Linked DNA regions of Homo sapiens: all the other regions are reported to be linked to region 3. The links are microRNA targets in miRTarBase. Many come from high-throughput screens and were not tested one by one. Region 3 holds a microRNA gene; each other region holds the end of a gene's coding sequence.
Evidence for each region. Region 3 holds the annotated microRNA hsa-miR-548v (AGCUACAGUUACUUUUGCACCA, at 1,081-1,102, shown strand). A microRNA usually pairs through its seed, bases 2 to 8, with sites in the 3' UTR of a target mRNA and lowers its output. Matches are read on the target gene's strand: a 7mer-m8 pairs with bases 2 to 8, a 7mer-A1 pairs with bases 2 to 7 and ends in A, and an 8mer does both.

Region 1 (3,156 bases), not on the chromosome of region 3:
CAGTAACAATTCCTTACTATCCACAGAGCTCACTTTTTCCCAAAGGACTCATGATCAACAATGTTTTAAAGGTTTAGCCTTCAGGCGCCCTTTCCTGCCGTAACCGTCCAGCAGGTTGGACGCACACAGGGATGGCTGCTCCCCTCTGTATGCCATCTTCCTCCTTTCTTCCTCCTTCTATCCACCCATACCAGATGCCCAACCTTCGGGGAAGCCTGCCTGGCACCTGCTCCCAAGGCTCTGCACTGGGAAAGCACACCAGACCAGTCTGTAAGCGGCTTCCAGATGTGGGTTCAGGAGCATGTCGATAGCCTTTTAGCTCCCACCCCAAATGCCCGCCCGTCATACATTCCCAGTAGACCCAGTACTCCACATTTCCTGATTCATTCTTTTGTTTCCCATTAGAAAGTCAAAGCCCTTGGGAAAAGTTGTGCTCTGATGGTAGCAGTCATTTACACCTTAGTATAAACAATGCCTCCTGTGTGCATTCTGGGCTAGGGGCACCTCCTGGAGAAATCCTGAAGTAAGCAGGTGTCTAACCATCTCTCCTTTGCTTCTTCCTCACAGGCTACAAGGAGCAGGGCATCCCACAGCAGCTGTGAGCCCACGGGAGCCGCTGGGGAGATCCAGGGGGGCCCTGTGAGGGCTGCACCAGGCAGCTTTGGGCACAAGGACCTTTACATGTTCTTTTCTGCCATTTTCTGGACTGGGGGTGGAAAGGGGGTATTTTTAAAAATATTATTTATTTTGAAAACGCATCTGCTTTTCTCAGCAGGTTGTGAGGGCTGCCAGCCCCTCCTGCTCTGGAAAGCACTGTGGGCGCAGGCACCAGAGCATCAGAGAGTGGGGTGGAGATGAGAACGCCCACAGAGAGGCTGGGATGCTCCGGCAGGCTCCAACTGGCCTTGCTGTACCCACTGCCCACCGCAAAGGCACGCCACGTCTGCTGGGCCGGGCCACACCGGGCCCTGTCTGGGTGAGCAGGGGCTCACCAAGGGGACAGGACTGTGGTAGACCCGTCCTGTGGGACCCCACCTGCCTCAAAATCTGGTGCCCCGAGTGTTTACTGTGTGGTCTCCTGGGGGCAGCACCAGGGTGTGGGTGAGGATGGCCAGGCTCCACCCTAGCGTGGAAAGGCCCACTGTGCCCACAGCTGGCCTGAGGCCTCGGGGAGAAGACCAGTCCCACAGGCGTCTCCTGGGCCTGCCTCCCTGACCGCACCCCCCGCCTCCTCGCAGCTGAAATCTGAGGGCTGGGTGTGTCGTGACCTGTGTTTTCCTGGGAAGGAGAGGAGTAGCTCCTTCCCTGGGGTGAAACTGCCAGATGTTTATACACAAAGTTATTAGACTGAAGCAGGAGTGGGCAGACTAGCAGGCTTTCACCCAATACTTAACAGCATTTCTGGCCCACATTCCTTTTTCTGAAGTCATTGGGGCCAGATGTGTCTCCGAATTGAGAAATTTTAGATTTGAGAAAGACAATGCGATCCATTTATCGTACACTTTCTAACTTCCCGGCAGAGTGTGGAACATCTCGCCTACCATCAGGCACGTGAATATTTCTGCAGAGAAACATGTGACTAGTCCCATTAACTGGGAGCTATACAAACTGTAAATAGCCTCACCTCAGTTCAGTCTAATTTTGCCACTAAGTAACTTAGGGAAAAACTTACCATTTGAGAGCTTTTAGGGTTTCAGAATTGCAAGAACAATTGTATGGGGTTGTGGACCTTGATCTGAAAATCCTGCTTGCAAACAGATGTGTTAGAGGGTGAAATTGTCGGCATTACACAAGGACTCCTTCAGTTGCCAAAAGACCATGGGCCTCTTTAAGGAGCCCCTCTGTAAGTGATTGGGACAGGGCTAGATCCCTAATGGGGGCTAGGGGTGGGGAGAATCTAGCAGAAGTTGTCCAGGATACTGTGGATCAAGTATCAATCTGAAATTAAGAGAAATTAGATACTAAGAGGATGGACATTTACATGTCTGTTTCCTTTCCTTTCATTTTCATTCTAACATAGGAAATGCTAACAGATGGGGCTGGCCCAAAGTCAAGCTTCTGACTCCACTTGACACAGTGCCATTGGGCATGTCCCTCTCTGAAGGGCTTGTTTGTCTATCAGAGACTGTCAGAACTCCATGAGGGCAGGAGAAGGGATTTTGCAGGATGAAAGTGCTTGGGAAGTAGTGGCCACCGTTCTGGGGGTTTCAGCCCACCTACCCCATCCACCGGGCTTTCTAATCACAGTCCTGCCTGAGAAGCGGGCCCTGCTGCCCACCCCTTATCATGGATCCCTTAGCTACTGTCCGTCTTCCATTGCTGCCTGGGGCTGGGCTGCCGTTTTTGAACACCTGGCAGTGTCTTTGTCGCGTCCTGTCCTCTCTTCTTACAGACCCCAACCCAGGCCTTTGCCTTCTTCTCTCCTGTTTGGAAGCCTCTGTATCTTCAAGGTGTGGGAACAGATTTGGTTTTCTCTAAAAAGCTAGAACCTTCTGCTGTGTGCAGCAGGCATCCTCCAGGCTGGTGCTGGCTGCTCTCGAGGAAGCTGCGTCAGAGTGGAGCTGCCCCTCTACTCAGATAAAATAGCTTCAGCTGCAGGAAGCCGCCCCCTCCCATGCCCACCAGCCCACAGCCCTTCACCCCACACAGCCCCCAGAGTTTGCCCGACACCCCCTGAGTGATGACAGGTCTCAGGAGGGGGCCGCCCCCACAAATGGGAGGCGGAAGCTTATTTTCCCCGCTTGGGCTGGGGGCGGCTGCTGAGGGGGTGAAGAAGAGATAGCAATTTATGTCGCATGTTTAGTGACACAATCCAGATGCAGGTGGGACTTTCTTGAGTGGCAGGTGTCACCCTGGGTCCCGTGTGGGATGGTTTAATACAGGGGTTTGTGTGTTTGTGTGTGTGGAGGGCCACTGCGCCCCCAGATCCTCCTCTCCCCCGAGGGCTGCGTCTCTAAACCTGGGAAAACATCAGCCTCAGGAGGAGGCCCCTTTCCGGGTAACTGATGTGTGGGAGAAGCCAAGAGGCCCCTGCCTGTCTCCTGAATGAGGCTGTGAGGGTTGCCATGTGGGCGGGACCGGTTCAAAATAGCGCCCCCGCCCCTCTAAATTAGACCGTGGTCTCAGCATGATCATCTTCAGTAGATAAGGGACAGT
Region 2 (3,127 bases), not on the chromosome of region 3:
GGTGGTACGTGTCTATAGTCCCAGCTACTTGGGAGGCTGAGGCAGGAGAATCATACCACTTGAGCCCAGGAGTTTGAGGCTGCAGTGAGCTATGATTGTGCCACTGCACTCCAGCCTAGGTGACAGAGCAAGATAGATGATTGATTGATTGATTGACTGATAGACTGACCCCATAAACCTTTTGAAACTGAAGGTTATAGTCTGTGTTTCTGTGGACTAGCAGGGAGTATTCTTAAAGTGGAGTCAGTGATTGGAGGTTGGGGGAAATGTCAATTTTTTTTTTTTAATGTCTCAGAGAACTAGCTAGTTGTAATTCCTAGGGCAGGAATAAGGAACTCATTAGGAAGAGGCAGTTTTGGTAGTTAAAACTTAAAGGTAAAATGCAGTAAGCTAATATCAGACCTATTATAAAGTTAGGAAACTTGAGTTGCATTTTATTAAAGGATATGAGGATTTTTAAGGGCCTTTATTTAGGGTTTTATCTCTCTGAATATAATACAATTTTTCTTACTTGTTTTCATGAACCAACAGGACATATTTGTCAGAAAACTTACTGTGGACTTCTGTTTTATTTTTAAAGTGGGAACAGATGAATCCCAGGAGAGCAGCATGACAGATGCGGATGACACACAACTTCATGCAGCTGAAAGTGATGAATTTTAACTTCTGGAAATCAGACTTTTACAACTGGATGTGTGACTAGTGCTGACGTGTTTCTTGTCCCTCTGTATACTGAGTCTTTACTCTTGAGCTGGCGGTGTCATCGTCCGTCACTTATACCATGAGTGTGCCACTTTCATTGGACCCTGACTGTATACAGAATGAAAGGCAGTGCAATATTTAGCTGCTAACAAGACTGGCTCTTTTACCAGTATGAATGACAATTTATGGGGGGTAGGGTGGGGAACTTTCTTTTCTGTTTTTCTTTAATCTCCCTTTGTTGGAAAGTATCATGAAAGGAAGAGTTATGCTTTATCTTGAAGGAACCATTAGATATGGAAAATAGTGATGAACCAGAGTTTCTTGGTTGCTTTTTCAAAAATTTGTTTTTATTTGGTTCTGTTCCTGATAAACAGAGTAACTGACCTTCATTTCTAGGTTCTTCAAGAATGGTGTTTGCAAGTGCCAGATGGAACAATAAAAGACGTTGCCTATAACAGTGACTTGATTGCCAAGGAATGTAAATTACCTTAAACTTGCAGTATCTCCCATAAACAAATGTAATGGGCATATTGGGACTCGTATGTAGGAATCAAATATCCCTCCATACAGTGTACTCTTATTCTTGGCAAGAATGCTTTAATGTCTAACCAAGAATTTTAATTTATTCATCTTGCTTCAAAGTGTTGATCATTGTTGTCTTGGTATTGCAAACTTTAAAATTGTTTCTTACCATATTGCCTCTTCTCTTTGAGCTCTGTGGGATCACCTTTAACATTCAGAGATGATAGAGTGGTTCCCCACTGAGAAGCCAAAACAAGGCCCTTAATAACCCCTTAAGTTCACCATATGAATCAGAAGGAGAACACTAAAGTGGAGAGACTTTTAAGAGATCATGATAGTGAAAGCCTTAATATAATCAGAATTGTACCATAACCTTGAATCTATATTTGTTCAAAACATCCCTTTGACTTTTCTAAGTGTTTGCTTAAGCAGAGTGTAAGAATGTGTGGTTACCTTTGGTTGAGATCCTTTCCATTCTTTTTGACTCTCTGCTTCAGATTTTTTCAGTAGTGTGAGTCACCAAAACATTTACTAAGAGTAATTGGGTTTAGGATGTTGGAAATTTTTAGCTTGGGGGAAAAAACATTCTTATGAAGGAGATAGGTTCTCTTCTGAGTTTGTCATAATATAGATTGGTGTCTTTGGAAAATGGCCACAATTTTAAGAATTCAATTATGCATATAAAATGATAATTATTGGAATTCCACAGTAACAGATTTAAACAGTCTTAAATTGTTTATCTCCTTTACTGTAATGTATTGAAATTTTTAGAGAAATTTTAGTTGTTAACATTTTATTAAGTGCCAGTGTCAGAATATAACAAATTATAGTTTCTTATGAATGACAGGCCTACAGTTATTATTCTGGATTATTTGATGGAGGACAAACTTACCTGTATTTGTTAGTCAAGCTGTGAAAATAAGGTGGATTACAAAAGATGTGAAAAAAATTTTAGTCTGTAGACTCAGTAATTTTCTATAATTTACTGTTAATCTCATTTGAACATGGATTAGGTACAATTTATAAATTAATTCAAGTCAGGGTCTTTAGGTATCAGGTGCCAGAGAGATATTTAACAGATTTCCCTACCTAAATTTATGTATATGTACTGTCTAAAACAATACTTTTTTAAAAAAAAGGAACAGTTGGGAGAAAATAAATATAATGAAAAATTCCCAGAGGCTAGCACTTGGATTCTAACACGTATGCTATTGTATTATCCATTAGTTCTGTAATATTTAATTTTAGATTCTTTTATTTTTTTAATTGGCAAAGCACAAGGTGCTGTATAACAGTGTCATTTAGAGTTTTATAGAAAGCTTCAACCTGAGTTCTGCGTTATAAAGCCTGGAGAAAGCTAAGCTTAGAACATAACTTGCTGAAGTATAATTATCTTTTTGTAGCAGGAATTTATGTGCCAGAGGTGAGAGTCTTTCTGGTACTGATTTTTTGAGACCAAGGATAAAAGGATCGTTTTGTAAGACATGCCATGGCAATGGCTGGTTGGGGGACAGTTTCCGCCCAAGCTTGGCCTATTTTATTTTTCCTCATACCTACTTTCAAAGTCATTTAGGTATTTGAAGCCTTATTTCCCACGTAGTAACACTTTCTGGCTTTTGCAGTTTCTTTTTTTGTTTGGTTTTGTTTTTTGCATGGAATGGGGATCAAACAACCCGAAGAAGAACACATTTTGATCAAGCAAAATGTTTGCTTCAAATTTCAGAAGTTTATTTTACAGAAATTAAATTAAGTAGTTTGACATCCTTTTCTCTGTTTCACACATATATTAGGTTGGTGCATAAGTAATTGTGGTTTTTGCCATGACTTTTATGGCAAAACCTGCAATTACTTTTGCACCAACTTAATACATCTATATACATATATATATACGCGCACACACTTG
Region 3 (3,156 bases):
TTTTCTCTCCTTTCATCCTCCTCATGACGTCAGTCAAGTCCTGTGAACTCTCATTTCACAGTGCTTTTCCCCTTCCTATGTCTTTGCTGTCCCCATTCATGCCATCCTTGCTCAGACCCTGGATAGCTTCCACTAGATCATGATAGCAACTTTTTTTTTTTTTTTTTTTTTTGGGATGGAGTCTTGCTCTGTCACTCAGACTGGTATGCAATGGCGTGATCTGGGCTCACTGCAACCTCCACCTCCCGGGTTCAAGTGATTCTCCTTCCTCAGCCTCCCGAATAGCTGGGATTACAGGCACCCGCCACCATGCCCGACTAGTTTTTGTAATTTTCTAGTAGAGACAGGGTTTCACCATGTGGGCCAGGCTGGTCTTGAACTCCTGACCTCAGGTGATCCGCTCACCTCGGCCTCCCAAAGTGCTGCAATTACAGGCGTGAGCCACTGCGCCCAACCTGTGATAGCACCTTTTTAACCAATCATTAGGCTTGTACTGTTTCTCACCTATAATCCATCCCAAGCACTGCTGACAGCGTCCTCTTACCAAAGCATCCCACGCTGCTGATTAAATCTTCCAGTGGTTCTCCCTTATCTACAGCTGATGTGTCCAGTGTGGTAGCCACTAGCCATATGAGACTGAGCATTCGAAATGTAAATCCGTTGAATTGAGATGTGTGGTAAGTGTACAATACACTTGGATTCCAAAAACTTAGAATGAAAACAAAGGATGTAAAATATCTCATTAACAACTTTTATATTGAATATATTGAAATATTATTTTATATATATATTTGGGTTAAATAAAATACGTTATTAAAATTAGCTTCATCTTTTTCAACTTTTCTCAGCGTGGCTACTAGGAAATTTATAATTACGTAACTCATGTTATTTTGTTTTGGGGAGTCTGGTTTTCAACTGGTACTATAAGGCTCTTTATCATTTGGCAACAACTGCCCCTTTTAATGTTATTATCATGCCCAGATGCTGTAGCCGTACATAAAGAGATGGAGGAGAAGCAAGAGGGATTTATTGAATACTAGGTTTGAGCAAAAGTAATTGCGGTTTTGCCATCATGCCAAAAGCTACAGTTACTTTTGCACCAGCCTAATATTTACTAAGTGCCAGATATTCTTACTTACCTTATTTAAATCCTCACCAAAGACACGAGTTGGAATTTACAAATATGAAAATTGAGGCATAGAGTTAGGTAATTTGCCTGCTATCAGACAGCTAGCAAGAGGAGAACCAGGACGTAAACCTAGGTCTAGGAAGCTATCAACTAAAAATGTCCTGTAAACTTCCTGTACGTCATCCATTGTTCACGTATCATTACTGGGTTGCTGTCCTTGCCCACAATACCTACATGTTCAGGTCGGTTTTACAGCAGCATCACATCACCACTTGCATTTAATTTACATAGATTCAGTACACAAACAACTGAAGGAAGAAAAATGCAGGCCGGGCGCTGTGGCTCACACCTGTAATCCCAGCACTTGGGGAGGCCAAGGCGGGTGGATCACCTGAGGTCAGAAGTTCGAGACCAGCCTGACCAATATGGTAAAACCCCATCTCCCCTAAAACTACAAAAATTAGCCATGTGTGGTGGCATGTGCCTGTAGTCCCAGCTACTCGGGAGGCTAAGGTAGAAGAATCACTTTACTTTGAGAGGTGGAGGTGGCAGTGAGCCAAGATCGCACCACTACACTCCATCCTGGGCAACAGAGCGAGATTCCAACTTAAAAAAAAAAGAAAAAAAGCAAATTAAATGAAGAACACAAGTCCACCTTGTATTCCCCCCAGTGAACGAAGGCCCGGGAGTCAATTTGAGATGAAGGTCAGGAGTCCACCCTTCCTTCATGTGTCTGCTCAGTCCCCGAACACCTCTTGTGGCGTGAGCATTCTATACTCTCTGCTATCTTAGTGTTTAAAGATACTTTTCCCTCATGCAACCTGGCCTCTAAACACAAGCCGAGGCCTTTATCAGGTGCTCAGTTATAGAGAGAGTTGATCCAACGCTAGAGGAAAAAAATTCACTGGGTTGGATCTACAGAGAGATGCATTGTCCACAAACATGGCAAGCTCCTAGTGAATTTCCCAGACAATTGTACTGTGTGTGAATTTCACCTTATACTTAAATTTAGGTCCTGACAGCCAAGGAATTGTGACTGCACTGAATACAGCTCCAGAACCCGCTTTTTTTTTTTTTTTTTTTTTTTTTTTTTTTTGCGACAGTGGCCTTGCTCTGTCACCCAGTCTGGAGTGCAGTGGCGCAATCTCAGCTCACTGCAACCTCCGCCACCTGGGTTCAACCAGTTCTCCTGACTCAGCCTCCTGAGTAGCTGGGATTACGGATGCCCACCACCATACCCAGATAATTTTTGTATTTTTAGTAGAGATGAGGTTTCACCATGTTGGCCAGGCTGGTCTTAAAGTCCTCACCTCAAGTGATCCACCTGCCTCGGCCTTCCAAAGTGCTGGGATTACAGGCATGATCCACCACTCCCAGTCCAGAACCCACTCAGGAATGATTTCCTGGCCTTCTAGATCTACGTTCTGTTCCCGTCTGGATTCCAGGAGCATATATGCTTCTCTTTCATTGTCTGTGTTATATTAGAGATACCGGTTTAATGCTTGTTTTTGCTTTTTAAGACAGGAAATTTACTGAAGGCAGGATCTGCATCTAGTTCTTTCTTATGAAACCACCCCAGCAGCTTTAATAGTCAACACAGTATATATGTGAGTGAACATATGAACGGAGAGGATGGAATTCCAGATGTAGGATGAGCATAAAGTCTTATGTAAATGTTCTTTGCTCTCTTTATTTTATAATCAGCAAATATTTACTGATTGTGTAATGTATACTGAGCACTATTATAAAACAGTTGGAGGCTAGGCATGGTGGCTCACACCTGTAATCCCAGCACTTTGGGAGGCTGAGGCGGGTGGATCGCTTGAGGTCCAGAGTTTGAGACCAGTCTGGCCAACATGGCGAAACCCTGTCTCTACCAAAAAATACAAAAATTAGCCAGGCATGGTGGCATGTGCCTGTAGTCCCAGCTACTCAAGAGACTGAGGCATACGAATCGCTTGAACCCAATAGGTGGAGGTTGCAGTGAGCCAAGATCGCACCACCGCACTCCAGCCTGGGTGACAGTG
Region 4 (3,156 bases), not on the chromosome of region 3:
AGAAGCGGTCAGCAATTTTCTCACTGCCCTCAGTTTGCAAAGAAAGAGCAGGAATCAGCAGCAAGTTCCTCATCCTGCAATCTCTGGGAATATCTGGGCTGCCCTCAGAATTGCGCTCTCTCTGATGGACCAACCAGAACTCTTCCAGGCGGCTAATCTTGGTGACCTGGATGTCCTCTTAAGAGCTTTCAACTTGGATCCTTGAAGAAAGAATAATACCAGTACTAATAATCCCTGATCTGTGTGATTGTACTGAAAAATCAAAAACTATTTTATTATGAATTTCAAAAGGATAAATCAAATATTCAAAAGGCCATGGTCATATAGCCCAAGGAAATTAATTCCTGTGGACAATGCCCAGTCTCTGTTCAGATCCAAAAGCACAAAATGTTGTATATAGAGTCAAAGTCAGGCTCAAAAGAAGAATTAAGAGACTCAAGACAAACCAAGATAAAGTAACTGTGTGTTGAATACTCTTTCCACAAGTTGCAAGCATATTGCAACACATGTTCTTTGGGTTTTTTGTCTCCCCTTGCAGCTGATGACACATCTGAGGAACTTGTTCATGGGAAACATGGAAAAAGCACTGCCTCAGATTGGGAAATTCTGACTGTTTCTGAACTGTCTTCTTTTGCAAGACTGAACATAGTTTGGGCCATTGGTGCATGCACATATATTAACTTGTGACTAAAGACAGACATTGCTTAAACCTGTTCCAATTTTAACTTTTACTGTAGCCCTTTGATTCCAGAGAGGGAGCTTTGCTGGCAAAAGCAGTTTTTGCACTAGAAATTTTTGCTGTTCCCAATCTAAACTTTTCTGGTATTGTATATATGCACTTTAATATCTTATTTATGCCTTGCTGGAGTTTTGTTTTGTTGCTCCAATTTTTAACTTGGGGGTGAAAGATTTAAGAACTCAGCCTCACTAGATCAACGGACCAAATAAACAATTCCTGAAGACAGTTTTTCATAGTGTAGGATTTTGAAGAAGTGTTTTTCTTAAAGCAGATACGATGACATAAGGCGTAAATATGGCAAACAGATCTTTTCATTCACGTGCTTTCTGGGTCTGTATGAACATAAGTAAGACACAAGGTACTGTCTCTTCATGCATTCTCTGCAGGAAGAAAGTTTGATGGTATCGTGATTTCTATTGAGTTCAAATTAACTTGCTTAAGTGTCATACTTTACTGGCTTTGCCCTGCACACCAATATTCCTTTTAAACCATAAATATTTTAAATAATATTTCTTAAGAGTGATAAATAACATTTTTTCCTAAAAATTATGTTTTCTTAGTTTCATAATAATCTGCACTGTTCATCCCCTTGCATTCTAAGTGATAGAAGAGCAACACTTTCAAACCAAATCTCACTGAATGCCAGTGATTTCATATGAAAGATGCATGCCTCTTTGGCTCTTTGAACATTTAGCAAGTATTGGGAATTTTCTATTAGCAGTGGTGTTTTAATTGGTTGAATTCCACTTAGTTCTCCACAGTGTTTTGTATGTGTTTGGGGCTTGGTGATTATTTTGAAAGATACATTTTTTAAAGAATTAGGAACATTTTTTGCAAAATGCTAATCAGAATATAATTTTCCCAATGTCAGGTATAGAAGTTATCCCATTCTTCTTTACCTGGTCTCCTTCCTTCGTCTAGAACCTTCCCCACAGTAGCTAATCCTAACAACTTTTTATTTATGTTCTTTGATAATAATAGCTCATCCCGCTCATGATTATAGCTACCCACAAAAAATAAAACAACAACAACAAAAAAGACTCCACAGAATTGGGATCAAAACAGTCTAATTGGCTGGGGAATAAGCTTCTACTGAGGAGTAAATGTGCACACGTGCTTATCAATTGAATGCGAGGTACAGGAATAAAATCCTCTCCTCTGTTACATCTGAAGTCCTTGGGTTGTGAGAGGGCCTCAAGTTAACAGAAACCACAAGTCCTTGAGGCTTACATATGTTATAACCTATTCTAGTTTATAAAGACAAAAAGCTGAGGCCACTGTGAGGAGTGCCAGGTTTTGATAGTCATTGTCAAAGTTGACTTGGGCCAGGTGGTAGCTCCAGCTGGTCAGCAGAAGGCAGAGGCATTCAGGCACTCATCATGGGTAGCAGCGACCACCCAGTCTCAGACCGTGCTTCTCTACAGTCTCAGCAGCAAAGTAAAGCTCAACAATGCTTTCAAGAATGGTATTGTAAGAATTGTAGAATTCGAGAAACCCAGTCTGGTAAGGACTCTTGGGGCCAGCCTCCAAGCCATGGCAGGGCCTGCTTGAATATGCCTGATTAAGCATCCTTTCCTTCCCTGCTCCTTCCTCCTGCCATCTCTGTACCTTGACCAGAAAGTCGGCATGAATAGTTCATGGACAAAGGATTGAATAGCCTCTGAACAAAGGATTCAAAGCAAACTTTGTAAGTGTTCTGTGATGCCATTCTATACTTTGAGCAGCAGCTGAATCTGCAGCCTGGATTTAAAGCCTGAAACTAGTATAAATGTCAAATAATTAATTTGTTGCTAAATGGTGGCAAATTTTGTGGCCCAAGTTTTATTTTGCTATTGGAACACAAACTCCAAGGAGCTGTTTTAGGGAAGACTAAACAATCTTCCATTCTTACCATTATTTGGCAATTTGCAGAGCATTTAGTAGTACTTTCTCTAGTGTATGTAGTATCTGTCAGATCTAAGATTTTTATAGGCTGTCAAGAAGTCCAGAATTACGGCCCAAGAGGAAAAGAGTTGCATTTTTCAATAATATTTTTTATAAAATTAAGTTAAAACCATTATTAAAACATGAGTGACAGGCCAGGTGCGGTGGCTCACGCCTGTAATCCTAGCACTTTGGGAGGCAGAGGCGGGCAGACCACGAGGTCAGGAGTTCGAGACCAGCCTGACCAACATGGTGAAACCCCGTCTTTATTAAGAATACAAAAATTAGCCGGGTGTAGTGGTATGCACCTGTAATACCAGCTACTCAGGAGGCTGAGGCAGGAGAATCACTTGAACCAGGGAGGCGGAGGTTGCAGTGAGCCGAGATTGCACCGCTGCACTCCAGTCTGGGTGACAGAGCGAGACTCCGTCTCAAAAAAAACAAAAAAGTGACAGTTTATAGGAATAGAGCACCACCAAGAAATCAGTAGCAAG

Region 1: the mRNA of STUM is a reported target of hsa-miR-548v. The part of its 3' UTR that is shown has no 7-base or 8-base seed match.
Region 2: the mRNA of CDC27 is a reported target of hsa-miR-548v. Seed matches in the 3' UTR shown: 7mer-A1 at 2,623-2,629.
Region 4: miRTarBase lists PEX5L as a target of hsa-miR-548v. Seed matches in the 3' UTR shown: 7mer-m8 at 732-738.

What each region holds. Positions count from the first base shown.
Region 1 is chr1:226,601,439-226,604,594 of GRCh38, forward strand. STUM (stum, mechanosensory transduction mediator homolog) reads left to right here. Exons shown (of 4, transcript NM_001003665.4): 4 at 568-3,156. The coding sequence ends at 602. Among named protein-coding and RNA genes, the nearest start is that of STUM, 54 kb to the left of the region's middle. RefSeq lists enhancers at 528-1,064, 1,065-1,600, 2,810-3,156.
Region 2 is chr17:47,118,471-47,121,597 of GRCh38, reverse strand. It overlaps CDC27 (cell division cycle 27), which reads left to right. Exons shown (of 19, transcript NM_001256.6): 19 at 581-3,127. The coding sequence ends at 663. Among named protein-coding and RNA genes, the nearest start is that of CDC27, 69 kb to the left of the region's middle. RefSeq lists an enhancer at 1,188-1,798.
Region 3 is chr8:17,679,534-17,682,689 of GRCh38, reverse strand. It overlaps MIR548V (microRNA 548v), which reads left to right and starts at 1,033; the gene lies at 1,033-1,112. All of the region lies in intron 7 of MTUS1 (microtubule associated scaffold protein 1), which reads left to right.
Region 4 is chr3:179,798,877-179,802,032 of GRCh38, reverse strand. It overlaps PEX5L (peroxisomal biogenesis factor 5 like), which reads left to right. Exons shown (of 15, transcript NM_016559.3): 15 at 1-3,156. The coding sequence ends at 205. Among named protein-coding and RNA genes, the nearest start is that of PEX5L-AS2, 98 kb to the left of the region's middle.